Linked DNA regions of Homo sapiens: region 1 is linked to region 2. Evidence: fine-mapped expression QTL. A gene starts in region 2. The other region holds a variant in brackets. All regions are shown on one strand. Distances are from middle to middle.

Region 1 (12,288 bases), 62 kb after region 2:
GTGCGTAATTCTCCCAGCATGGAGCACTGCCAGCCGCAGAAGCTCCCCTGGCCTGCATGTCCAGGGTCTGTACTGGGGGCTGGTCCTGTAGACGTGGCTGACCACCCTCATGGCCAACCTGTCTCTAGTCCCTCCAGATGTCAAGCTGATGTGCCCAAACTCCCACCCTAAAACCACAGTGTGAGCAGACTCTGCCATAGCCCAAGGCCTCAGGCACACAATGACACTCTTATCAGGCAGGATATTCTCCTGCAGGTCACCTCCCAGGAGCTGGGGACAAAGGTCAGACCTCTCTTGGGGCCAGCTTAACCCTTTTGCTGTACAACTCCTCATGCAAAACCAAGAATGAGCATGGGGTTCCCCAAAAGAAGAGCAGAGGCCAGGCGCGGTGACTCATTCCTGTAATCCCAACACTTTGGGAGGCCGAGGCGGGTGGATCACTTGAGGTCAGGAGTTTGAGACCAGCCTGAGCAACATGGTGAAAAACTCTGTCTCTACTAGAAATACAAAAAAAAAAATTAGCCAGGCATGGTGCCTGTAGTCTCAGCTAGTTCGGAGGCTGAGGCAGGAGAATCACTTGAGCCTGGGAGATGGAGGTTGTAGTGAGCCAAGATGGCGCCACTGCACTCCAGCCTGGGCAACAGAGCGAGACTCCATCTCAAAAAAACAAACAAACAACAACAACAACAAAAAAGAAAAGCAGAGTCCCCACTCAGTGTCCACTCCTGGCCCAGGGGCTGTGCTCCGAAGCCTGAGTGCCTCCAGCAAAGTGGACAGGAGCTGGGAATTGTGGGCAAGGTTTGGACAGAGATGGGGCTTGGGAACCATGAGAGTTCTGTGTGTCCCCAGTCCTGTAGATTGTCCCCGCATCCCAGGTTTCCTGTGGCCCGGGGACATAGTGTAAACAAAGCTGCTTCAGGGAGTTCTTGCCCCTGATGTCTGGCCTCCTGGGAGCTGGCAGCTCAGCCCGTGTAGAAAGCACATGTGGCATGAGTACCTGCTGTGTCACACGTCGTGTGTCCCTCTCACACCCGCCTGTAGCACTCACTCTAGGTCGGGGACACAGGTCCAGGAGGGGTCACAGCCTTTAGGGCCATATAGTCAGTGAGAGGTGAATGTAGCACAGGTTTCTGTCATGCTACTTGGACACAGAAGAGGGTGGAGAAAGTCACGGGAGGCCACAGGCGACCTATGCCCAGGTAGGTGTGGGGTGGGAGCTGTAGGACCCCCACCCTACACCCCCTCCCTCTGCCACAGCCCGGAGCTGGCCTGTTTCATCTGGTGTGACTGCTGGGAGGGACACTGTGGATGTTCATTGTGTATGTGTCTGGCCAGCGGCCACCAAGGGCTCCCAGCACAGACCCTGGGCCTCACCCCCAGGCCCTCGAGAGCCACCCAATAACACACAAGGTTAATCTTACCATCGGCTCCACTTCAGCTCACAGGAAACAGCTGTTTACCTGGGCGAGGTGCTCAGCCGGGCAGGTGGCCAGTTCCCGGGCTTTACTTCCGCCTCCGGTGTCCAGGGCCCCCTAGGAAGCTGGGGCGGTGGGGCAGCCAGCTCTCCACGCACTGCCAGGAGCTGTTTGTAAGGAACGAGTCGGCCTTGTTGTGTACACAGTGTCCACCCTAGCAACCGCCCCTGCCGGGCCAGAGTGGACAACCACCCCTCCTTCCTGCCTGCCCAGCCCCACCTCTCCTCACGGTGGCTGCCTCCCCCAGTTGCATGGCAGGCATCATGGACCAGCATCCCCAAGGGCCTCGGGTCGTGCCACATGGGTCAGGGGCCTCTGTTACTGGCAAATCAGCATCAGCCACATGAAGGGGAGGAGGCCAGCTTCCAGCCCTGTTCAGAGTCAGCGTGACCCATCAGGGAGCTCCTGGCCCCTGGTTCTGTGCCCCGATGCCATCAGGGAGTGGGAAGCAGGGATGCAGCTGAGATGAAGGCGCTCAGCTGGGCCCAGCCCCCAAGAGGCTGGGAAGGACCATGAGGAAGGAACATGGGGCTCAGGACCCTCTAGAACTCAAGCTGGGTCTGGGGGACTGACTTGGCTGCCCTGGCTCTGTGTGGGCTGCCGTCGGGATCACAAGTCCCACGCTTTGAAGGCCATCACCACGCTTCTGAGACAGCTTCCTCCGATTCAGGCCAGTGGGAAGCCGCCTGGCCTGCCAAGTCACAGCCTCTGGCCGTGATAAGAAATGGCTCCCCTGGGCTGGTGAGGGGCCTCCTTGGCAGGCTGCAGGCCCGCCAGTGCCTCTCTTGCCCATTCACTGACTGACCGAATCAGCAGCAAGGCAGCCAGCTCCCCAGGTTCACGGTCATGGGTTTCTGCATGGTGCATTGCCCCGCCTGGGGAGCCGTCCCGGCACCTCGGGTTTCTGATTCTGCCATTTTTGGTGGAGGGACACCTGGTTTCCTTAAGCATCTGGGTCATGAGGTCCTGCAAACTTCTGCACTTAGGCTGTCAATCCCACCACTTGGGTCTTTTTGTGCCTTTGGGGCTGGCACTCTGAGGTGAGCCTGGGAGGTGACCCCTCCCGCAGCTGCTGGCTTCTCTCTCGCAGCTCCAGCTCCAGAAATCCCAGTACCTGCAACTGGGCCCCAGCCGAGGCCAGTACTATGGCGGGTCCCTGCCCAACGTGAACCAGATCGGGAGTGGCACCATGGACCTGCCCTTCCAGGTGAGTGCCCCGCCCCCTGGCCCTGCCCCATTGTGGGGAGCTTCCCCCAGCCTCCCACTGGGGGCCAGACATTGAGGACAGCTGGGGTTATCAGACAGTTGGCGGAGCCCACCCAACCACTGCCTTCTCCTTGTCTGCCCTGGGAACCAGAGGAAGCAGAGTGGCCCCACCAGGGTGCCCCCGCAGCCCATTCCCCATCAGCAGACCCCGAGGCGAGCCCTCCATCTGGCCTCCAGCATTTCGGCAGCCGCTACACCTGTTGGCCGGCTGTGCGGCAGCGGGAACCGCTCGGGGCCACTGGGGCTTGGCTCTGTCCTGCCTCACTAATCCGCAAGCCCAGCAATTCTCAGAAGGAGGCCCGGCGGCCTGACCCCACTTGTCTGCAAACGTTTCTTGGCAGAGGCCCACACAGCGCGGCTCCCGCAGGCCGCACAGCCGCCGTGCACAGCCTTATCGTAAACAGGAGATAAGGCCCACAGCGGCCCTCTTCCCTGTCCCTGGTCTGCGGGTGGAGATGGGGATGGGGTGGGGCCGAGGGAGCTGGCCTATGAATCAGGGCCACCCCCAGGACGGTGTCTGGGCTCTGCATGGACAGGTCCCCCTGGGGGGGGGTCACACCTACTCTGTGGCTGAGAAAACCACCTCGGACACAGCCATGGCCACTGACAGGCCAGATGGAGCCGGGGCCCCTCCCAAGTCACCCACCAGCTCCACCGCCACCTGCACCGCCGCTGGACAGGGCAGGGATCCTTGGGCTGGCCACCACGGTGCGCCTCCTCCGGCATACAGAGTGCGGGCCATCACTGATGCTGGGCGTGTTCTTTGTCACAGCCCTTCCTGGCCAGGTTTTCTCCCCTCCTGCCCTTCTCTCCCTTTCCTGTTTCTCCTGTCCCCTCTTCCCTGGAGGAGAGTCTCTCTCTGGGCACCTTGCAAGCTCAGCCTGAGTGGGGCTGAGGGGCACAGGACCCTGTTGGGTGTCTGTCGCCCGAGGCCCACAGCCCGGGGGGAGGTCCCACGCATCCCGCCTTTGGGGCCAGGCAAGGCAGCAGCGTCTCAAAGTCTCGGTTCTTTGCATTTTCAGCCCAGCGGATTTCTGGGGGAGGCCCTGGCAGCGGCTCCTGTCTCTCTGGTAAATGAGCCCCCAGGCTGAGGCCGCGGCGTCCCCGGCGCCAGCCTGCAAGACCCCGACCCGTGTGCGGGCGCTGGGGATCCCTGAGCTCCCCAAGCGGCCGCCCCTGCGGCTCCCAGGGAGGTGGAGGTGTCCCGTCCGCCAAATGGAAATGGATCCACTCCGCACCCCCATCTCGGGAAGTGCGTATGGTCGCGTCGAGAGGCCCTGGGGACTCTTGGGGTCCATCTGGGGCAGATGCCATAGCCGCGCATCCCCATCTGGGGTCCAGCAGAGCAGAATCCCAGCATGTGCCCCAAAGCTGCATGGTCCGTCCCTATATACACACACACACAAACACACACACACACACACACATACACACACGTGTGCACGCATCTCCCAAACCAGGCCAGCAGGCAGGACGTGGCGAGCCCGGGTGTGGCCAGCCCCCGCTTCATTCTGCCTCTGACTTGGCTTTGGCTGCCTCAGTTTCCCTCTGGGCTTCAAGGCATCTCTGGAAGGAGATGAATTGCCCCTACCCTGAGGAGCCTGTGCACTGGACAGCACAGTTCCCACCCTCATCGTCACAGGCCCACGTCTCCCATGCCCACAGCCTTTTGGGGGCAAGAGCCACGGAAAGACCCAAACCAGCAGAGTTCATGCTGGATCGAAGAAAGACTTGGGGGTCCCCAGGGCTGGGGACAGTAGTCAGCCCTGAACTCTGGCCGAGGCTGGGACAAAGCAGCAATCCTAGCCATGGACAGGCTTCTGGAGAGGAGACTCACTTTAGTATCAGAGTCTCATTTTGCCCGGCTGCCCAGAGAAGGCATAAGGGCTCAGGGGCCAGATGGCCGGACTGGGGGATTGGCTGCATCCAAAGCTGGCAGAGCCTGCTGATCTCACCCCAGTCAGATGGCAAGTGGGCAACACAGGGTCAGGGCGGGCTCCTGGCAGCCCCGGGGGCATGAGGCCGGGCATGTAGCAGGGCCTGGGGAGGGCCAGCCTGGTGCCAGCCCCAGGTGCTGGGAGGAAGCCCCATCCAGCCAAGCAGTGGGCCATGGCTCCGGAAGGCGCCTGTACTTGGCTCTGGTGGTGCCTGGAGTGCCTGGAGGAGGCTGCGGGGGAGGGTGTGTGGGGGCCGCGTCTCAATCAAGAGCAGCCCTGGGCTCCACAAGGAAGCCTCCCAGGAACTCGCGCTTGGCCAGGTGGGCCCCGAAACAGTCCTGGGCTGGAAGCCCCTGGGCTGTCTCTTGGCAGGCCCCTCCAGGGATGACGTAGGTGGGGGTAGGAGGCCGTCCAGGCCCGGAGAGAGAGGGCGGAGGCCTGTCTGCACCTGGTGAGACTGGGGAGGAGGGCTGCCTAGGCCGGCTACATCCCTGGCACCCGGCGGGCGCTGGCCCCGAGCTTGTGCCGCTCTGCCTGGCCTGTGCATGCCAGCTGCACTGCACGCCCCTGCCACCCTGGCTCCCGGGACCCCAGCTCACACCCCCTCCCTACCCCCCAGTGCTTGGAGAGCCAGGGAGCTGGGGCTGAAGGAAGAAGCCCATCCCAGGCTGTGGAGCGATGGCCGAGGGTGCTCCAGAGTGGGGGGCCCTGCGATCAGACTCTGGGGCCAGCGCTGGGGCCACAGCTGGTAACCATTGTTTGGATTTCTCTCTCTCTGTTTCCATCTCCTCCTCCCCCAGACCCCCTTCCAATCCTCGGGCCTGGACACCAGCCGGACCACCCGGCACCATGGGCTGGTGGACAGGGTGTACCGGGAGCGTGGCCGGCTCGGCTCCCCACACCGCCGGCCCCTGTCAGTGGACAAACACGGACGGCAGATATCCTTTTCACCAGAGGATGAGGGTGGGGGCCAGGCCCTGTCGGTGCCGGCAGGACCCCAAGTTTACCCAGCAGGTTCTGACAGGGCTGCCTGCTTCCAGCTCTGGGGACAGAATCAGGGCAGCACCATCTGGGAGGCTTGATCTCAGGGCAGCCTGGGGGACTTCCTGGAGGAGGCTGTGCCACAAGCCCTGGAGCCTTTGGCCAGACTTGGGGGCTCAAGGGGCACAGGGAACAGCTCTCAAGGCAGGAGTTGAGGAAGGTTATACCTGACCACAGAGGGCTTAGACACCTGGCAGGGCAGTGGGGCCAGGAAGGCCGTGAGCAGGGAGCCCACAGTCAGGGCTGTGAGCTGATGAGGCCTCTCCTACGCGCTGCACGGAGGGCAGCCCAGCCAAGGCAATGGGGCTAAGGGGGTCTGTGTGAGACCCGGACGCATCCAAGGGAGGCTCCATCTCTGTAAGACAGGAGTAAAATTCGCCTCTGCGACTCGGTCACGCAGAGATCAGCCAGAGTCCCCCCCTCCCCCCCAACTCAGCCGCCCCTTGGTGCTCAGCCAGCCGGGCCCCACAACACCAGAGTCTGAGCGGCCTCAGGTTGCTCCCGGGATCCCCCGGCTCTCCAGAACAGAGAAGCTTGTTCTCCGGTTCTCATTTCCGTGGGCTGGGGGAGCTTGACCAGCTGGGCCCCAGACTGAGCCCTTGGGCCCCAGGAGCCACCCCGTCAGCCCAGGATGGAGAGTCCAGACCAGGGTCAGCTGAACTCAGACTCCACAGCGTCCCCACAGGCCCTACTTTCACAGCCCAGAACCCCCTCCCTTGGAAGGGGTGCAGCCCGCACGTGTGCTCACGGAGCAGAGTGCTGAGTGCTAGGTGGACAGGGCTGTACCCCTGGAGAGCCCCTGGAACGGGGGCTGCTTGTAGCCAGGCAGGAAAGGCCGGCAGGAAACGCCCCCCGCCCTACTGGTCCCAGCTGTTTGCAGGCCTCAGGCCGACCCCAGCCAGCCAGCCGGGGCTTCCTGCCCTGGGCTGAGAGTGTGTTGTTGGAGGCGGGGTCTCAGCCAGTGGCACTGCCCCCTTAACTCACCTCACGCCGACAGCTGCCCCTATGGCACCATGTACCTCTCACCACCCGCGGACACCAGCTGGAGAAGGTCAGTGGCTGGACACCCCCCCCCCGCCCCCTTCTTGTTGGAAACAAAACCAAACTCTCATCATGGTTACATGTGGAAAAGCAGGACACAGTCGCTTAAACAATGACCAAACTAAGATGCATCCAGAAGTTTCTAGAAATTAGCCTTCACCCTGAAACACAGGAGTTCCAGCTTTGGGAGGTCTTCTAACATTTCCCTTCCCCCCACTTATGACAAAAAAAAAGACAAAAACAAAAGTGGGACCAGGAGTGGTGGCTCAGGCCTGTAATCTCAGCACTTTGGGGGGCCGAGGCAGGCGGATCACTTGAGGTCAGGAGTTTGAGACCAGCCTGGCCAACATGGTGAAACCCCGTCTCTACTAAAAATACAAAAATTTGCCAGCATGGTGGCGCATGCCTGTAATCCCCAGCTACTCAGGAGGCTGAGGCGGGATAATTGAACCCGGGAGGCGGAGGTTGCGGTGAGCCAAGATCGAGCCACTGCACTCCAGCCTGGGTGACAGAGTGAGACTCCATCGCAAGAAAAAGAAAGTGGGACGATACCGCATATTCAGCACTGTAGCTTGCTCTTTCCTATTTAATGCTGTATTCAGAGCAGGTACCCATGTTACTCAACAGCCATTAAAAATGTGATGATAAAATTATATTAACACATTTAGGATGGAAGATTAGGAAAAATACAGGCCAGGCACAGTGGCTCACGCCTGTAATCCCAGCACTTTTGGAGACCAACGCAGGCGATCAGTTGAACCCAGGAGTTGAAGACCAGCCTGAACAACATAGAAAGATCCCATCTTTACAAAAAATGAGAGAATTAGCCAGATGTAGTA[G/A]TGCACGCCTGTACTCCCAGCTACTCGGGAGGCTGAGGTGGGAGAATTGCTTGAGCCCAGGAGGTCAAGGCTGCAGTGAGCTGTAATCATGCCACTACAGTCCAGCCTGGGCCACAGAGCGAGACCCTGTCTCCAAGGCCTAAAATAACAATAATATAGTTAATATAAAAACATACAATAATATAGATCATGGTTGTACAACAATGTGAATGTACTTAATGTCACAGAACTATACACTCAAAAACAGTTAAAACTATACATATATACACACATATTTACATACATATGTATACAAACGTGTGTGTGTATATAATTTTTTTTCTGAGACATGGTCACACTCTGTTACTGAGGCTGGAGTGCAATGGCGCGATCACAGGTCACTGCAGCCTCGACTTCCCAGACTGAATCGTCCCACCTCTGCTTCCAGCTGATTTTTTTTTTTTTTTTTTTTTTTTTGGAGAGACAAGATCTTGCCACGTTACCCAGGCTGGTCTCAAACTCCTGGGCCCAAGTGATCCACCCATCTCGGCCTCCCAAAGTGCTGGGATTACAGGACATGAGCCACTGTGCCTGGCTGTTATATATATTTTACTACAATAGAAATATATATAACAGGCACAGTGGCTCACACCTGTAATCCCAGCACTTTGGGAGGCCGAGGCGGGTGGATCACTAGAGCTTGGGAGGTTGAGGATGCAGTGAGCTATGATCATGCCACTGTACACCAGCCTGGGGGGCAGAGTGAGACCCTGTCTCAAAAAAAAAAAAAGAAAAACCATATACATACATACACACGCACACACACCACACACATACACACACATGTTAGTAAACGGAAGAAAAGTAAGCAAGCTGTTCAAAATATATATGTATACTACAATATTAAATTCTCACCAAGCCCGTATCATAGGTCAGGCCCTGTTCCCACCATCACATTCATTAACTTATATAAAATGAATGGAGCTTTATGGAGTGGGCAGTGTGTTCATCTCCATTGTAGTCCGTGTTAGACATGAGGAAATTGAGCACAGAGAGGTCAAAACACTTGCTCAGAGACACATAGCTGGTGGTGGCTGTACCCACATTTTGCCTGGCAGCCAAGGAGGCTTTCTGGGGACCCACTCTTGAGGCACCTGCAGCCAGGAGCAGATTGGGTGGCCTTGTGCTTTCTCCCCATCAGTTCCTAGAGGGAAATGCGGTCCCTGGAGGTAGAGGGAAGAGCCTCTCCTGGGCTAGTTGAAGCAAGACCTCCTGCCTCAGGTTGGCTTCCCAACCACGGGGGCCTCTAAGTGGCTTCATTCCTTCCGGGGCCTTCTCCTAGCCCATTCCACCTGTCACACTGGGTTTGTGTGACACTGAGCATCCTAGAGGGCACAGTCACCTGATTGTGTTTGTCACCAAGAGGGGACCTGGTGACAGACTGGAGGCTCATACCCCAAGGCTGGGCACCTGTGGGGCTCCTTCTTTGGGAGGTTTCAGCAGGAGGGCACTGTCCTTTCCCCAAAGCCAAGAAGCCTTGCTCTGTTGCCCAGGTTGGTCTTGAATTCCTGGGCTCAAGTGATCCTCTCACCTCAGCCTCCTGTGTCGCTGGGACCACAGGCGTGCGCCACCTCGCGCGGCTGCTTTTTGTTTTTCACGAGCTTTGCAGATGAACACCGCAGTCACTCTGGTGGCTCTTTTTAGAATGAGGTCCCGAGAGCTTTGCTCAGGTGCAGCAGCTCACAAAAATGATCCACAGCTGCCACCCTGTCCATCCAGCGTGTCCCAGCTGGGATCAGGACTATCGCATTGTCTGCCTTGGGCTGAGGCTCATTGTCTCTTCCTCCCTCCCCACCAGGACCAATTCTGACTCCGCCCTGCACCAGAGCACAATGACGCCCACGCAGCCAGAATCCTTTAGCAGTGGGTCCCAGGACGTGCACCAGAAAAGAGGTATGGACAGGGGACTCGGGTGTCTCTGCTGGGGTGAGGCAAGTCCAGCAGGTAACCCCTGTTCTCCAGGAGGTCACAAGCTTGTGGGCAGATGGCTCTTCAAAGGAAGACTCAGACCATGCTGAGGGATCGGGGGAGGGGATCGGAAACTTTCAGAGGTGGTGCTACTTAAGTTGGATTTTGAAGAGTGCATAGGAGTTTTCTAGGCAGAGAAAACAACCCTGCAGGCGCACGTTGGCTCCCATTCCTGGATTGAGGGCGTGGCCATGAAGTCTGGGTGCTGCACAGATGCTGGTTTCAAATGTAGCGGCAGCAAGCCCACGCAAAGGAGCATTTGTCAGCTCATGACAGAGCAGGCCAGGGGTCGACTTCTAGCCACAGGTTCAGCTCCTTCCACTGCTTCCCACTGGACTGTTTCCTGGCTCTGCTGCTGAGAACTCTCCTCGCCTGCAGCCCCTGGGCCCGTCCTAGCTATAGCGAGTGAGAAAGAGGCCATCTCTTCCCAACTCTTGGCCAGAGTGTCGCCTCCAGCTGAGCCATGCACACCCCTGTGGCGGGGACAGATCTGTACCCAGGTCCTTGGCTCCAATTTGAAGCCGGGCGTGGAGGCGGCACCCTGGGAACCTTCAAGGAGGGCATATGCTGTCTTAAAAACTGGGGCGGTGCCATCAGAGAAGGGAGCTTGGAGGCTTGAGGCCAGCCCCAGGGAACCTGGTGTGGCCCAAGGCACTGAAGCCAGGGAGTTGCACGTGCTTAGGGCTCACATACCTATGCTTGTATTGCTGCCGTTCACCGAGTGGGTGGTTAACACGCAAGGGAGATTCTGCTGATAGGAGGAGGAAGAGGAGGAGGAGGAGGACTGTTGGCCAGAACCTCACTCCGGGGTTCCGGCTCAGCGTGCAGCAGAGACGGGAGGGAGAAGAGAATGTCTCCATAATGAAAATGAGGCTTCTGGAACACCCAGGGGTGCTGAGGATAGCACAGTGCCTGGGGCTTCCCTGCTATTCCTAATGAGCAGGCTGTTCTGAGGCTGCTGCCTGTCCTACTAGGTCCCCACAGACAGCACGTCCGAGGGGTGGGCAACAGGATGTCACCATCCCCTGGAACACTGTAACCTGGGAAAGGAGCTGTGACATGGGACCCCTGGTGGCCTTGGAGTGGGGGCCTGGCAGGGACACATCATCTATCCCCACTCTCCTCGGAGCGCCTGAGGTGGTGACAGGGCTGGGGTTGGCCTGGCTGCCTCCTCGCAGCCTGGCTTTCAACAAGGAAGGGGTTGGCCTATCTGGCTGTGCTCATCGTGGGTCTCCCAGTTACAAGTAAAAAAAATGAAATGTGCAACAGGCATAAAGAAAATGGGGAAATGGGCTGGGTGTGGTGGCTCACGCCTGCAATCCCAGCACTTTGGGAGGCCGAGGTGGGTGGATCACAAGGCCAGGAGTTTGAGACCAGCCTGGGCAACATAGTGAGACTCTGTCTCTACCAAAAATACAAAAAAATTAACTGGGAGTGTTTGCACGTGCCTGTGGTACCAGCCACTCGGGAGGCTGAGGCAGGAGGGGGAATTGTTTGAGCCTGGGAGGTGGAAGTTGCAGTGAGCCAAGATCACGCCACTGCACTCCAGCCTGGGTGACAAAGTGAAACCCTATCTCAAAAGAAAAAAGAAAATGGGGAAATGTTTACTCTTACCTTGACTGAAAGATCCAAGGAAAGGCACTTTCAGGCCCGGCTGGTTCCAGAGCCTCAATTGATGCCCATCCATCCCGTCGCTCAGACTCTCCCTCTCCTCTTCTTGCTCTGGGGCTGGCTGACATTGTGGCTGACTCACGGGGCCGCTGCTGCCATGAGTGCACTGGTCCCACCTCCATCAGCATTGAGTGACATGATCTGAACCCCTGTGCTTGGTGCCGGGGGCTCAATAAAGGTTCAGCCACTGGGTGTCAGCAGCCCAGAGCAGGAAGCAAGATCAAGTGGTGGATGCGGAACAGAACATGCAAGCTAGGGCCAGGCGCGGTGGGTCATGCCTGGAATCCCAACACTTCGGGAGAGAGGCTGAGGTGGGCAGATTGCTTGAGATCAAGAGTTTGAGACCAGCCTGGCCAACATGGAGAAACCCCATCTCTACTAAAAATATAAAAATTAGCTGGGCTTGGTGGCACATGCCTATAATCTGAGGCTGAGGCAGGAGAATCTCTTGAACCCAGTAGGCGCAGGTTGCAGTGAGCCAAGGTGCCACTGCACTCCAGCCTGGGTGGGAGAGCAAGACTGTCTCAAAAAAAAAAAAAAAAAGAAAGAAAGAAAAATATACACACAAGCTAGGCAGCTGCTCTTGGGAGAGATTCTTGGCTGTTCTCTGTAGCCTGACGCCTCTGAGGCCCACGTTGGTTCAGCCTCTTCTGTGGGAAGCAGAATCCACACATCCTCAGGCTCCAGAGCTGCTGTTTTATATTATTTTATTTTAGAGACAGGGTCTTGCTCTGTCACACAGGCTGGAGCGCCATGGCATGATCACAACTCGCTGCAGCCTCTACCTCTCAGGCTCAAGCGAGCCCTCCACCTCAGCCTCTCGCATAGCTGGGACTACAGGTGAGCACCACCACACCCGGCCAACTTTCTTATTTTTTGTAGAGGTGAGGTTTTGCCATGTTGCCCAGGGCAGTCTCAAACTCCTGAGCTCAAGTAATCTGCCTGCCTCGGCCTCCCAAAGTGCTGTAATTACAGGTGTGAGCCACTGTGTCCAGCCTTGTTTCTCTTTGT
Region 2 (16,276 bases):
AGCTATCTATCCCTCAGCACAAGTGGCTGGGTCCCTAGACTTGAACCATGGGTCCCCCGCCTGCCCAGTTCCAGCCTCTCACTACCCTCCTTGGCGGCCCACCCCGTCCCACCCTCCATCCACCACTAAAGCCTGGGTGGGAGGACGAGGGGCCTGGGTCCTCCTGTAACCTTATCGTAAGGAGGGGCATCGCTGGCTTCTCTTGGGTCCTTTCCCTCTCTCTTCATGATCAGACCCAGCTTTTGCTTTGCCCTTTAAAAACTCTGTACGATGAGAGCCTCTTTTGGAAGTCAAAGACAGACCAGGGATTGTTTTCCTCTTTGCCTCTCAGCTCCAATGGCCCTAATTCACCTCCACACGACGTGGGTACCCCAAATCGACTAAGATCCCATATAAGGAAGAGCTGAGAAGCAAAGCATGAAAACTAACATGGCGAAGTAGCGTTTTGCTTTCCTAACAGTTGCTGAGTGCTTGGATGAAGCAGGCACTGAGCTAAGTGCTTTCCATGTGTTATCTGTTTCATCTTTCCAAGAGCCTGCTATGAGGAGCACCACTGTCCACATTTAGCAGAGGAGGGCAGTGCGGCTCAGAGAGGTGAAGACAGTTTTCCATTGTCACACAGCTTGACAACTGATAAGTGTTGGACCACACAGAAATGCTCAAGAGTTTCTTGATCTCCCGGGTCAAGCAATTCTCCTTCCTCAGCCTCCCAGGTAGCTGGGTTTACAGGCGTGCACCACCACGCCTAGTTAATGTTTTTTTTGCATTTTTAGTAGAGACGGTGTTTCACCATGTTGGCCAGGCTGGTCTCAAACTCCTGACCTCAGGTGATCCGCCCACCTCAGTCCCCCAAAGTGCTGACATTACAGGTGTGGAGGTGGAGGTTGCAGTGAGCCGAGTTCGCGCCACTGCACTCCAGCCTGGGTGACAGAGCAAGACTCTGTCTTAAAAACGCACAAACGAATGAACAAAAACACATAAGAAATCACGTGTGTCTGTGCCCTTTCCACATTCCACAGGCACACAGGGAACTCTGGCCTGGCCCTGGCCTCTTTGGGAAAGGCGAACATAATCTCAGCTCAATCTACAAGGGATCAGATGAGACCGCACAAACAGCTGCCTTCAGAGAATGGGATGTTTCTGGGTCATGGGAAGAGACGCTGGAGGTCCACTTCAGCTAGACCCTTCAGGAGGGTCTCTCAGAGCAGAGGCCTGCAAGTCGAGAAGGAGCCAGCCACGAAAGCATCTTGGAGGAGCGCAATCCAGGCAGAGGGAACAGCGAAGAGGCCCGTGTGGCTGGAGCGAGAGCCGAGCCGAGCATAAGCATGTGGAGCCGCCAGGAGGAGGGTATTTTTTTTTTATTTGAGATGGAGTCTCACTCTGTCTCCCAGGCTGGAGTGCAATGGTGCGATCTCGGCTCACTGCAACCTCCACCTCCCGGGTTCAAGCGATTCTCCTGCCTCAGCCTCCCGAGTAGCTGGGATTACAGGCACCCACCATCATGCCTAGCTAATTTTCATTTTTTTTTTTTTTTAAGAGACGGGGTTTCACCATGTTGGCCAGGCTGGTCTTGAACTCCTGACCTCAGGTGACCCACCTGCCTCTGCCTCCCAAAGTGCTGGGATTACAGGCATGAGCCACTGCGCCAAGCCTTTAGATTTTTTTTTTTTTTAAGTGCGATGGGAGTGTGGGATCTGCCCTGCTTTGCAAAGCCCGCAGGGCTGCTGTGAGGAGCAGTGTTGGACCACACTGGGTGACAGCAAGTTCCTTTGATGAAGGAAGAAAGTGAAAACCTCAGGGTTGGTTTCTGCCCGGGTCACTGGACACTGAAGCCTCGCCCTTCTCAGGGCTGGGGGTCAGTGGAGCAAGAAGCGGGGCTTGGGCTGCTGTCTGGCCATTGCACAATGAGCGGGCTGGCTGCTTCCTCTGACTCATCACCAGGGTTTAGGATGGATCAAGTTTCATGCCAGGCGGGCCGCGGGGTGAATGGGGGTGAGTAGGAAGAGCAGCAGACTTACTTCTGCACATGCCCAGGATGGCTCCTTGCTGTAACCCCTGCTAGTCCCCAAAATCTTTTCTCTTCCATCTTCCTGTGTCTGGAAACTGGCTTAGTGCAGATATATGTAAGTGATCAGGGTAAGTGGCATTTATGGAGCACCTCTTAGTGAGACACATATTAACATATGTTAACATACTAACATATTAACGTATGTTGACACATACGAATTTCATTTAAAGCCTACAGGGCCAGGTGCAGTGGCTCACGCCTATAATCCTAGCACTTTGCGAAGCCGAGCCAGGAGGATCACTTGAGGTCAGGAGTTCGAAAGCAACCTGGCCAACATGGCAAAACCCCGTCTCTACTAAAAATACAAAAATTAGCCGGGTGTGGTGGCCTACACCTGTAGTCACAGCTACTCAGGAGGCTGAGGCAGGAAAATCGCTTGAGCCTAGGAGGTGAAGGCTGCAGTGAGCCGAGATCTCACCACTGCACGCCAGCCTAGGAGACAGAGCGAAACTCCATCTCAAAAAAAAGAAAAAATTAGCTAGGCGTCGTGGTACACCCCTGTAATCTCAGCTACTCGGGAGGCTGAAGTAGGAGGAGAATTGCTTGAACCAGGGAGGCGGAGGTTGGAAGTTGCAGTGAACAGAGATCGCAACACTGTACTCCAGCTTGGGTAACAGAGCGAAACTGTGTCTCAAAAAAGAAAAAAAAAAAAAGATACATGTAATTGATTAGGGTAAGTGGCATCAATTACGGAGCACTTCTTAGAAGTAAGGCAGTTGACACTTATTAACTTCATTTATTTTATTTATTTATTTATGTATTTTTTTGAGATGGAGTTTCACTTTTGTTGCCCAGGCTGGAGTGCAATGGCGCAATCTTGGCTCACTGCAACCTCCACCTCCTAGGTTCAAGCGATTCTCTTGCCTCAGCCTCCCGAGTAGCTGAGATTACAGGCATGTGCCACCACGCCCGGCTAATATTGTATTTTTAGTAGAGACGGGGTTTCTCCATGTTGGTCAGGCTGGTCTCAAACTCCTGACCTCAGGTGAGCCGCCCGCCTCAGCCTCCCAAAGTGCTGGGATTACAGGCGTGAGCCACCACGCCTGGCTAACTTCATTTAAAGCCTACAAAACTCAGTGTGTGAAAGCAGCTGAGGTCGGCTGTGAGGCCTGAGTTTTGGTGCATAAGTTGCTAGGGCAGCTGCTGTCCCTGCTCTCTGTCTTTATTTCTTCTCTGACCTCACAGGATGCTGTCAAGAACTAGAAGCCGGTCAGGCGTGGTGGCTCACGCCTATAACCCCAGCACTTTGGGATGCCAAGGTGGGAGTATCATCTGAGGTCAGGAGTTCGAGACCAGCCTGGCCAACATGGTGAAACCCCATCTCTACTAAAAATACAAAAATTAGCTGGGCGTAGTGGCGCACGCTTGTAGTCCCAGGTACTCTGGAGGCTGATGCAGGAGAATCACTTGAACCTGGGAGGCGGAGGTTGCAGTGAGCCAAGATCGTACCACTGCACTCTAGCCTGGGAGACCTAGCGAGACTCTGTTTAAAAAAAAAAAAAAAAAAAAAAAGAACTAGAAGCCACATATGTAGCGGGCCCAGTCTCGCATTGGACTCACAGAAGCTGCAGTCTCAGTCAGAACCAGGAACAGAAAAAGGACTTGAAATAGATTTAGGCAGGCCAGGCACGGTGGTGCACACATGTAATCTCAGCACTTTGGGAGGCTGAGGGGGGCGGATCACTTGAGCCCAGGAGTTTGAGACCAGCCTGAGCAACAGGATGAATCCTGTCTCTACAAAAACCACAAAACATTAGCCAGGCATGATGATGCACACCTGTAGTCCCAGCTACCTGGAAGGCTGAGGTGGGGGGATCACCTGAGCCTAAGGGTTGGGGCTTCAGTGAGCATGATCATGCCACTGCACTCCAGCCTGGGCAACAAAGTGAGACCCTGTCTGAAAAAACAAACAAACAAACAAACAAGAAAACAAATAGACAAGCACAAAAGGGAATAAATTTTTGGCCTACATAACTTAAAAGGCAGGTGAGTCTAGCTTCAGGAATGGCTGGATCCAGAAGCTCAGGCTGGAGTACAGTAATGTGATCTCGGCTCACTGCAACCTCTGCCTCCTGGATTCAAGCTGTTCTCCTGCCTCAGCCTCCCAAGTAGCTGGGATTAGAGGCATGTGCCACCATGCCCAGCTAATTTTGTATTTTTAGTAGAGATGGAGTTTCCCTATGTTGGTCAGGCTGGTCTCAAGCTCCTGACCTCAAGTGATCCACCCACCTTGGCCTCCCAAAGTGCTGGGATTACAGTTGTGAGCCACCGTGCCAGGCCTGGTTCTGTTTTCCTCTGTGTGGGTCCACTCTTTTGGCCCAGCTGAACTAATCTTTTGTTTTTTTTTGAGACAAAGTCTCCCTCTGTTGCCCAGGCTAGAGTGAAGTGGCGCTATCTTGGCTCACTGCAACCTCCACCTCCTGGGTTCAAGTGATTTTCCTGCCTCAGCCTCCCCAGCAGCTGGAATTACAGGCGTGTGCCACCGCGTCTGGCTAATTTTTTTTGTATTTTTAGTCGAGATGGGGTTTCACCATGTTGGCCAGTCTGGTCTCAAACTCCTGACCTCAGGTGTTCTGCCCGCCTCTGCCTCCAAAAGTGTAGGGATTACAGTCATGACCCAGCGCCCAGCCTGTTTTTTGTTTGTTTGTTTGTTTGTTTGTTTGAGACAGGGTCTTGCTCTGTCACCCAGGCTGGAGTGCAGTGCATTATCATAGCTCACTGCAGCCTCCATCTCCCAGGCTCAAGCAATCCTCCTGTCTCAGCCTCCTGAGTAGCTGGGATTATAAGCAGGCATCACCACGCGCAGGTAATTTTTTTATTTTTAGTGGAGATTAAATCTCGCTATGTTGCCCAGGCTGGTCTCAAGCTCCTGGGCTCAAATGATCCTCCTGCCTCGGCCTCCCAAGTTCTGGGATTACAGGCATGAGCCACAACACCCAGCCTGGCCTGAACCAATCTTGATGGCCAGCACAATGGGCTATGCTGATTGGCCAAGACTTCCACCTTAGGGAGGGGTGTTTGTGTGGTGGGAGAGTGGTGAGACCAGCCATTCACATCTCACAGACTGAAAGTCAGAACCAGTGTTCCCCAAATAAGGGTTGTTGACACTAAAAAGTTGAGGGAGTGGGTGGGGTTGAGAGAAGGAATATGCTTGTTAGGCAAAAAGTATAGGAGCTTACCAAAGTGCGCAAAATCATATCAAGAAGGAAGATGGCCGGGTGCGGTGGCTCATGTCTGTAATCCCAGCACTTTGGGAGGCTGAGGCGGGCGGATCACCTGAGGTCAGAAGTTCAAGACCAGCCTGGCCAACACGGTGAAACCCTGTCTCTACTAAAAATACAAAAAGTAGCCGGGTGTGGTGGTGGGTTCCTGTAATTCCAGCTACTTGGGAGGCTGAGGCAGGAGAATCACTTAAACCCCAGAGGCAGAGGTTGCAGTGAGCTGAGTCTGTGCCACTGCACTCCAGCCTGGGAAACAGAGACTCCGTCTCAAAAAAAAAAAAAAAAAAAAAATCCCATAAAAATTAGCTGAGCATCATGGTGCATGCCTGTAATCCCAGCTACTTGGGAGGCTGAGGTAGGAGAATCGCTTGAACCTGAGAGGCAGAGATTGCAGTGAGCCAAGGTTGCGCCACTGCACTCTAGCCTGGGCGACAGAGTGAGACTCTGTCTCAAAACAAAGATAAAGTAGGGCAGTGGCAATATCCAAGGCATTCTAAATGAAAATCGATATATATATATATATATTTAACATGAGCATTTTATTACCTGTTGTAAAGCATGAATCAAAGCATGTTTGGAAGATGTCAGCATCCCCTCCAGCCATCCTCAGTCCAATAAAATGTGTGCTTGTTGTGCCATTAGAGCCATCATCAATTCCCCCAGCTGACCTTCCTAGCTTCCACCCAGCCCATACTCTGAAATCCCTGCAGCCTCCTGAATATAAACTTTCAATATTGGTGGTTGGGGGTCCCTCTCTTGAGGGAGGGAGGGTTAGAGTCCCTCCTGCTTCCCTGGCTTACCACTCTGCCATCGGGGGAGTCTCTGCTCCTTCCTTCACTGCTGAGTCTTGATGGGATTTCTGGACCCTTCTGTTAGCACCTTGTTGCAAAATAGAGATCCTTGAACAAGACTGGACTGGAGAAGTATGCAGAGGGAAGGCTGAAGCTCTGTAACTCCAGTTCTTTGGGCTCAGGTATCCAGAGAATAGCAATATGCCCATTGCAAGGGAATGGGAAAAAGTAGTCGTCGGCTGGACATGGTGGCTCACGCCTGTAATCCCAGCACTTAGGGAGGGCGAGGCGGGTGGATCACCTGCTGTCAGGAGTTCAAGACCAGCCTGGCCAACATGGTCTTTAGTCTCTACTGAAAATAAAAAAATTAGCTGGGCGTGGTGGCGCCTGCCTGTAATCCTAGCTACTGGAGAGGCTGAGGCAGGAGAATGGCTTGAACCTGGGAGGAGGAGGTTGCAGTGAGCCGAGATCGCACCACTGCATTCCAGTCTGGGCGACAAGGGCAAAACTCGGTCTCAAGGGAAAAAAAAAAAAAAAAAAGAAAGTCGTTAAGGGCAACAGCTAGGTTTATGGACTGAGAGAGCCGATTGCAGGGTTCAGGTCTTAGCTAAGATAACTTTCCGCCTCCCTGTCTGTGGTGGCTGCAGGAGCCTCCCTCCCTAATGTTCTGTGGCTGGCCACTGGTCTTATTTACCGCATCACATTTACCTCCATCTGAAAAGTTCTTGGTTATTTGTGTGCTATGTCTGCCCCCTCTCTGACTGTACACTCCATAAGGGCAGGGATCACCTCTGCTTGTTCACGCCTGTACTCCAGTTTGCCTGGCACATAGTAGGTGCTCAGTAAATATTCCTTGAATGAATGAATGCATGAGTGACCAACGCCCTAGTCTGTTTTCAGAGCTCTTAGTCCAAACCCAGGTTCAACTTGGGGTGCCACCAATCCTTGCGGGGGGGGGTGCCTGGCCCCACCCTTGTGAATTGGGAGGATCTGGGTCAGGCCGTCTCCCTCTTGGGGGCTCCAGTGCCCCAGCCGATCCGCGGTCCTTGTCCAACAGCCCAGAGGCCGCTGTCCAGCGGGCCAGGAGGCGGATCACTGCGTCGGCGTTGAAATTTCCACTCGCGCTCCACCGCCCTTCCCGCGGGCCCCGAGCGCGCGCCTGGGCGCGCGCATGCGCCTTCGCCCCCGCGCCGCGCGCCGCTCCTGTGCGCCTGCGCCGCGCTCACGACCGCCGGCGCGCCTGCGCACTGCTCGCCGCCCGTGGGCCCAGCCGGCGCTTGCGCGGTGGCACGGGCGAGTGGGGGGGCGAGGAGGTGGAGGAGGAGGAGGAGGAGGAGGAGGTGGCGGCGAGAAGATGGCGACTTCGAACAATCCGCGGAAATTCAGCGAGAAGATCGCGCTGCACAATCAGAAGCAGGCGGAGGAGACGGCGGCCTTCGAGGAGGTCATGAAGGACCTGAGCCTGACGCGGGCCGCGCGGGTAAGGGGGCTGCCCGCGCCGACCCTTCAGGGCCGGCGGAGGGAGGGAGGGGGCGCGTGTCCGGCGCGTGCACGGGGCGGGGTGGGGGGGGGCGCGGCGGGGGCGGGGCGCGCGCGGCGGGGGCGGGGCTTGGCACGGCCCGAGGGGGACAGGTGTCCCCACGCCCCGGGCGTCGTGGGCGGGACAGGTGACCCCACAAAATCCATACCTGATGGGGTACAGGTGCCCTGCATCACTGCTCCCCGGAGGAGACAGGGGCCTCTATATCATTACTACTAGGAGGGAACAGGTGCTAGTACCTCGTCGTTACCTGACAGGGGACAGGTGTCCCTACATCATTGTTACCCGAGGGGGACAGGTGCCCCACATTATTACTACCTGGAAGGGACAGGTGCCCCCGCATCATTGCTACCTGGGGGGGCAGGATGACACAGGTGTATGAGCTGGGTGCTGCTTGCAAGCACCATTGGTAGCTGGGGGTGAGGGTGCAAGTGCCCCCGCATCCTTGCTACCTGGGAGGGACAGATGCCCTCCCATTCTTGCTACCTGAGGGGGACCGGTGTCTCTACGTCATGGTTACCTGTGCCTTTACTCCCTGGGTGTTGGGGGAGGAACGGATGTCCCCACTTGCAGAGCTGAGGTGGGACAGGGATCTCTCCCTCTTGGACAGCTGAGGGAATGGTCAGATCCTGTCCCCCAGGGGGTCCAGAGGGGGGCCAAGAAGGCAGATTGTGCTCAGTCCTGGAACTTGGAGTGGAGACAGCTGCCCCTTCTCCATGTAGCCCATATGGTGGGGGCCAGGTGATGTTCCTCCCAGTGGAACAGGGGATGCTGACCACAGCCCCTGCCCTCTCAGGACCAGGGTGGAGGGCCAGGTCTGCCTCAGGTGGCTGGGCGCATTTGGTGTGCAGGGGCAGGCCAGGTTCTGCCAGGCTCCTGTCTGGCAGAGCAGATACCCTGCAAATCTCACCTGGGAAGTTGCTGTGGGCCAGGAGCAGGGGCTTGGGGCTGGTGTCTGAGCACGGCAAGGCACCCGAGTTCCTCAGGCCTCAGTTTCTTGTCAGGCATTCTAGCAAGACCTTCCTCTTGGGGCAGGGTGGTGAGCACACTCTGCAAAGGTGATGCTGAATCTCCACTTTGTTCTTGCAGTGTGGTGAGACCTCTCTCCTGCATCCTGGGGCCTTGGGGAGGGTTTGGGTGGGCTTTGCAGATGCTCGTATCCCTGGTTTCCAGATTCAGCCACTGATGTGACTGGCTCAGGTAGACTTAACCTCAGTCTCTGATTCCTTAGGTAGCACTTTCAGTCTGTGTTACTTTGTAACTAGTTGTTTGTTTCTCTGAGAGATTGTGACCTTATAGACTAGGATTTGTGTCTTCATTTCTGTGTTGGTAATGATTGGGAGCTCACTGTCACCCAGGTACTGCTTTAGGCATGCTCGGTGAGTGTGCCACATCTGTCCTCCCAGCTCCAAGCAGCTACATTCTTGCTCAGGATGTAGAGAAAGAGATGGCTGGTGAATGAATGAATGAAAAAAAAATAAGAAAATGGCCAGGTGTGGTGGCTCATGCCTGTAATCCCAGCACTTTGGAAGGCTGAGGCAGTGGATCACCTGAGGTTAGGAGTTCGAGACCAGCCTGGCCAACGTGGTGAAACCCTGTCTGTACTAAAAATATAAAAATTAGCCGGACGTGGTGGTAGCTACCTGTAATCCCAGCTACTGGGGAGGTTGAGGTGGGAGAATCACTTGAACCTGGGAGGTGGAGGTTGCAGTGAGCCGAGATCATGTTACTGTACTCCAGCCTGGGTGACAAGAGTGAAACTCCATTTCAAAAAAAGAAAATAAGAAGAAAGTGTGCAACTTGAGCATCCTTCCACGTGAGTGTCCCCCACATATCAGGGCTTCTGAGGCAGGAGTGGCCACTTCTTTTTGTCTCCAGCACATGGTGTGTGCTGGCATGCAGTTGTTGTCAAATGTTTGCAGTGTGACCGGAAGAAAGGGGTCACAGTAGGTTCATGGGTGTCATTCTGATTAGAAGTCCAGTTTCTGCGTGGGATTGGAAATAGATTATTGTTGTTGAAAACATCTCTTTAAAATAATAGCTTTATTGAGATATGATTCACACATCATACAATTTACTTGTTTAAAGTGTACAGTTTGGTGGTTTTTAGTATATTCACAGAGTTGTGCAACCACCCCTATTTTGTAATTCCAGAACATTTTTTATCCACCCAGAAAGAAACCCCGTCCCCATTAACAGTCACTCCCCATTCCCCCTCCCCTAGCCCCTGGCAAGCACTAAGCTGTCTTCTGTCTCTGTGGGTTTTCCTATTCTGGGCATTTTATATAAATGGAATCACACAACACGTGGCCTTTTGTGACTGGCATCTTTCACTCAGCGTCATGTTTTCAAGGTTCATCTCTGTAGTATCATGGATCAGTGCTTCGTTCCTTTTTAGGGTCAAGTAATATTCCGTTGTATGGATATATTGTATTTGTTTATCCATTCATCAGTCAATGAATTTAGAAAAATTCTGAGGCCAAGTGCAGTGGCTCACACTTGTAATCCCAGCACTTTGGGAGGCCAAGGTGAGTGGATGACCTGAGGTCAGGAGTTCGAGACCAGCCTGGCCAACATGGTGAAACCCGTCTCCACTAAAAATACAAAAATTAGTCGGGTGTGGTGGCACATGCCTGTAATCCCAGCTACTCGGGAGGCTTAGACAGAAGAATCGCTTGAACCTGGGAAGTGGAGGTTGCAGTGAGCTGAGATTGTGTCACTGTACTCCAGCCTTGGCAACAGAGTGAGACTCCATCTCAAAACAAAAACAAAAACAAGATTCTGAAGATATGCAGGTGGCAGTTCTTTCAGCCCTGGAAACCATTTCCCATCTTCCTCATCACCTGGGGTCAGGGGAGCATGGGCTCTGGGCAGAGGTGAGTTCACACTAGATTTTTAGACACAAAGCATTGTTCTCTTTCTGGGGCAGGGGGTGATTCTGCCCCCCAGGGGACACTTGGTGATGTCTGGAGACATTTTGGGTCATCATGATTAGGGAGTGCTTCTAGCATCTGGTGGGTGGAGGCTGGGATGCTGCCCAACCCCCTACATGTAGTGCACAGGATGGCCCCATCGTGTGGAATAATCTGGCCCCAGATGTCGGCAGTGCCAAGACTGAGAAACTTTTTTTTTTTTTTTTTTTTTTGAGATAGACTCTTGCTCTGTTGCCCAGGCTGGAGTGCAGTGGCGCAATCTCGGCTCACTGCAACCTCTGCCTCCCGAGTTCAAGTGATTCTCCTTCCTCAGCCTCCCGAGTAGCTGGGATTACAGGCATCTGCTACCATGCCTGGCTAATTTTTGTATTTGTAGCAGAGATGGGGTTTGTAGTAGAGACCATGTTGGCCAGACTGGTCTCGAACTCCTGACCTCAGGTGATCCGGCCACCTCGGCCTCCCAAATTGCTGGGATTACAGGCATGAGCCACTGTGCCCAGCCAAGGCTGAGAAACTTTTGATTAGAGGTGTAACAGTGAGGTGGGCCAGGGTGTGAGCTTTGCACCTGGTCAGGTAGAGTTCCATCCTTTGCTCCCACCTATATGGCTGTGCCATCTCTGGCAGGCTGCGACCAGGGTGGGCAAGCTTATTCCCAGTTTGACTGGCCACTGCACAGTCCAAGTGGCATGTCCGCCGTGCCTGGAGCAGGTGAATGAACCTATATGATGTGGGCTTCCCTCCTGCAGCCATGGCGCGCTGCCTCCCATACTGTAGACAGCAGGGGTTTGGCCACACCTGCAGCCAGGTGAGGCATGATCGGGTCGGCACCTGCTCCTCTCCTTTGAATTCCAAAGGACAGCATGTCACTCATGCGTGTCTGTTCACAGTTGCCGGTGGTGATGGCACCTGAGGTGTCTTGCTGCCGTGGAAGGCCAGTCAGCAGATGTTTGGCTAGAAGACAGGGACCTCACCAGGGCACAAGCACTGAAGGGTTGGGGGACAGGGCGTAAAGTCGGGAGACTGTTTGCAGGTCTTGGGGCGGAGGGGTGGGTGTGTGGGCGTTCCCTCCCACTCTTAGGCTTGGGTCAGCGTGACAGGCAGGCTGTCTATGGCGCTCTGCTGTGTGACACTGGGTGGGTTTCTCAACCCCTCTGGGCCGTAGAATCCTGAGTTGTAAAGTTGGGGCAGCGCGTTCATTCCATCAAATGACAATTTTCATTGTCTGGCATGTCTCAAGAGCCTGGGGTGCTGGGGCTCCTGCAGTGTACAGGGCATACGGGGCTGTGTTCTTGGGGAGCCAGCATAGTTTTAGGGGGGACAGGAGAGCATCAATGCATCCGAATGAAGCAGACGCCCTCAGAAGGTGGCACACGCTGGGAGAGAAGTGGCTCAGCCACGTGCTAGGAGTGGCTGGGACAGGGGTGACACAGCATCCCCAGAGAGCAGGGAAGAGCACTTCAGATTGGGGACAGGCACAGTCAGAGCCTTGTGGTGGGAATGACTTGGCGAGTTTGAGAATGGGTGGAAAGCAGGGAGGAGGGCAGGTGAGGCTGCAAGAGCTTGGATCTCCCCTGAGGGAGGGGTCTGGGAAGCCTCCCTGCTTGTTTTGTTTGTTTGTTTGTTTGTTTGTTTTTTTGAGGAGGAGCCCCCCCTGTCGCCCAGGCTGGAGTGTGGTGGTGCGATCTTGACTCACTGCAACCTCCGCCTCCTGGGTTCAAGCGATTCTTCTGCCTCAGCCTCCCAAGTAGCTGGAATTGCAGGCATGCACCACCACGCCTGAGTAATTTTGTATTTTTAGTAGAGACGGGGTTTCACCATGTTGGTCAGGCTGGTCTTGAACTCCCGACCTCAGGTGATCCGCCCACCTCGGCCTCTCGGAATGCTGGGATTACAGGTGTGAGCCACGGCGCCTGGCCCCGCTTGTTTTTGTAACAGCTTTATTGAGATGTCATTTCCATGGCATTCCGCCACTCAGTGGCTTTTAGTATATTCACATTTGCACAGCCAACACCAGTCAACTTGAGAACATTTCGTACCCCCAGAAAGAGACCCTGTCCCCATCAACAGTTACTTCCCACTCCCCCTTGCCCAGCCCCTGGCAGCCACAAATCTGCTTTGGTTGCTTGCTTTCTTTTTTTTTGGAGACAGAGTCTCAGCTCTGTCACCCAGTCTGGAGTGCAGTGGCACAATCTCAGCTCACTACAACCTCTGCCTCCCGGATTCCAGTGATTCTCCTGCCTCAGCCTCCTGAGTGGCTGGGATTACAGGCAGGTGCCACCACACCCGGCTAATTTTTGTATTTTTGAGTAGAGACAGGGTTTTGCCATGTTGGGCAGGCTGGTCTCGAACTCCTGACCTCAAGTGATTCACCCGCCTTGGCCTCCCAAAGTGCTGCGATTGCAGGTGTGAGCCACCACACCTGGTCAACTAATGTGGTTTCTGTCTCTATGGATTTGCCTGTTCTGGACATTTCATATCAATAGAATCCTACACAGTGAGGCGAATCCTGCACCATGAAGCCTTTTGTGTCTGCCTTCTTTTACTTAGCATAGTGACTTCAAGCCTCTAACTTGGATCAGTGCTTCATTTCTTTCTTTCTTTTCTTTTTCTTTCTTTTTTTTTTTTTTGAGACAGAGTCTTGCTCTGTCTCTCAGGCTGGAGTGCAGTGAGCCAAGATTACGCCACTGCACTCCAGCCTGGGCGACAGAGTGAGACTCCATCTCAAAAAAAAAAATTGATGGCCATATATATATATATATATATATGTAATATAACACTTACCATTTTGACGTTTTTTAAGTATAAAATTCAGTGGCATTAAGTTTATTCCCAGTGTGGTGCACCGTCACCGGCATGGCTCAGTAATAGTTCATGTCATATTCCATGGTGTGGGTCTACCCCGTTTTGTCCATTCATCTGGCCATGAACACGGGTTGTTTCCACCTTTGGCTGTCGTGAATCATGCTGCTGTTGGCATCTTTGTCCACGTTTTTGGGTGGATGTATATCTTCATTTCTCAGAGCATGTGCTGGGGAGTAGAGTTGCCGGGTCCTCTGGTAACTCTCCATTTATCCATTTGAGGACGTCGTGTGTCTCAGGAGGATAGCTGTGGCTGTGAGTGGGATGGGTGTGGTGTGAGCATCCGCTGCAGGTGTCCAGATCAGGGGGAATGATAGCTGGAGCAAGGGGGTGACAGAGCGGGTGGATTTGGTGGCATTTCTGCAGCAGAGCCACCCAGACGTGCTGGAGGATTGGATGTTGGGGGTGAGGGGAAGGGAAGGGGGGAGTGTCGTCTGCTTGCCAGGGGTTCAGGACATTGGGGATTCCTCGTATGACTGATCATTGATGACCTCAGACAGCAACACCTGGGCCAGAAAAAGTACCCAGGCAAGACAGTCATGGTGGCACGGTCAGGGCTGAAGGAGGGCACTCTCCTGCTGTTACCTACTGTGAAGCTGGAGTAAAACGGGCCCCTGGGCTGCAGGCACAGCGCAGTGGTGGCTCAGGTTAGCTGAGTGTGGAGCCCGCCCCCCAGTCCTGGCTTTGGCGCTATTTGTTTCTGTGCCGGCTGCTTCAGCTGTCTGCTGCCATCCGCAGCCTCCATATACAGGCAGGACTCCCTGAGCTGCTCCCTGAACAAAAGGTGGGGCAAGCTGCCCTCATCCTCATCACTCTCCAGGCCCCTCCAAAAAGCTAAGCTGTCTCAGTACTCCCCAGGTTGTGAGCTGCATGCCCTGCAGCAGGCTGAGTGGTGGCCCCTAAAAAGCATCTGCTCACCTTCTAGCCCTGTAACCCGTGAATTGGACCTTAGTTGGAAAAAAGGTTTCTGTAGATGTGATTAAGGTAAGGATCTGGAGATGAGATCATCCTGGGGGGGTGGCCCTAAATCCGGTGACTGGTATCCTTATGAAGAGTGGGCCATGGCTGGGCGCAGTGGCTCACTCCTATAATCCCAGCACTTTGGGAGGCCGGGGTGGGCAGATCACGAGGTCAGGAGATCGAGACCATCCTGGCTAACATGGTGAAGCCCCGTCTCTACTAAAAATACAAAAAAATTAGCTGGGCGTGGTGGTGAGCGCCTGTAGTCCCAGCTACTCGGGAGGCTGAGGCAGGAGAATGGCGTGAACCTGGGAGGCAGAGCTTGCAGTGAGCCGAGATCACGCCACTACGCTCGAGCATGGATGACAGAGCGAGACTCCGTCTCAAAAAAAAAAAAAAAAAAAAAGAAGAGTGGGCTGGGAGTGGCGATGCATGCCTTTAATCCCAGAGTTTTCAGAGGCCGAGGCAGGAGGATTGTTTGAGCCCAGGAGTTTGAGGTTACAGTGAATTATAATCACTCCAGCCTGGGTGACAGAGTGAGATCCTGTCTCAAAAAAAAAAAAAAGAAAAAGAAAAAGGAAAAGATGGAGGGGGACCAGGCACAGTGGCTCACGCCTGTAATCCCAACATTTTGAGAGGCTGAGATGGGACGATAACTTGAAGCCAGGAGTTTGAGACCAGCCTGGGCCACAAAGAGGGAACTCATCTCTACGAAAAAAAATTGTTTTTTAATTAGCCGGGTGTGGTGGCGTGCACCTGTAGTCCCAGCCACTTGGGAGGGTGAAGTGGGAGGATCACTTGAGCCCAAGAGTTAAGGCTGTGGTGAGCCATGATTGTACCATTGCACTCCAGCTGGGGTAAAAGAGTGAGACCCTTTTCTCCAAAAAAAAAAAAAAAAAAAAAAGACAAGAAAGGACACAGAGACACAGGGGAGAGGACCATGTGACAATGGAGGCAGAGATTGGAGCGATGTGGTCACAAGTCAAGGAATGCCCAGAGCCCCCAGAAGCTGGAAGGGATAGGAAGGGTCTTCCCCTAGAGCCTCTGGAGGAAGCATGGGCCTGCCGGTGCCTCTTTTTTTTGTTTTTTTTGAGATGGAGTCTCACTCTGTCGCCCATGTTGGAGTGCAGTGGCGTGATCTCGGCTCACTGCAACCTCCTTCTCCCGTGTTCAAGCGATCCTCCTGCCTCAGCCTCCCGAGTAACTGGGATTACAGGCTCCTGCCACCACGCCTGGGTAATTTTTGTATTTTCAGTAGAGATGGGGTTCATCCTATTGGCCAGGCCGATCTCGAACTCCTGGCCTCAAATGATCCACCTGCCTCGGCCTCCCAATGTGCTGGGATTACAGGTGTGAGCCACCGCGCTCGGTCTTCCCCACCCCCACTCTTAGGACACAATCCATACCCGAACACTGAGCTCCTACACTCCAACCCCGACCCTGTGGTCCTGATCCTCCACCCCAGGCCCTGCTCTTGCTGTCTCCCTCTGTCTCATCCAGTGTAGAGCAAGGGCCCCTGCTACTAAAAAGGGCTGAATGAAGGGTCCACTCCGGGCCTCGGTGGTAACCCCACACAAAACCTGCGGAGCCAGCTGGAGCTGGCTGGACTTATGCATCTGCAAGCGGCTGCAGCCCTGTCCTGATGTGAAGTCCACAAGGTTACCTGGTGCTACAGGTTCTGTCAGGCCCGGGGTTCCTTGCCACTGGCTAAAGTCACAAATTACCACAAAGTGAGGGGCATGAAAAACAGAAATTAATTCCCTCACCGTCATCAATATGATGAAACCCCGTCTCTACTAAAAATACAAAAATTAGCTGGGCATGGTGGCATGCACCTGTAATCCCAGCTACTCAGGAGGCTGAGACAGGAGAATTGCTTGAACTTGGGAGGTGGAGGTTGCTGT

The links.
Region 1: its variant is fine-mapped to the expression of CRTC1 in whole blood (INTERVAL, PIP 0.94).

The regions. Positions count from the first base shown.
Region 1 is chr19:18,740,345-18,752,632 of GRCh38, forward strand. CRTC1 (CREB regulated transcription coactivator 1) reads left to right here. Exons shown (of 14, transcript NM_015321.3): 2 at 2,566-2,682; 3 at 5,479-5,616; 4 at 6,709-6,770; 5 at 9,437-9,531. Among named protein-coding and RNA genes, the nearest start is that of COMP, 45 kb to the right of the region's middle. RefSeq lists an enhancer at 8,779-9,762. The variant G/A (reference allele first, on the strand shown) is at 7,600.
Region 2 is chr19:18,676,269-18,692,544 of GRCh38, forward strand. It overlaps CRTC1 (CREB regulated transcription coactivator 1), which reads left to right and starts at 7,412. Exons shown (of 14, transcript NM_015321.3): 1 at 7,412-7,560. The coding sequence starts at 7,435. RefSeq lists an enhancer at 6,802-7,101 and a silencer at 7,312-7,401.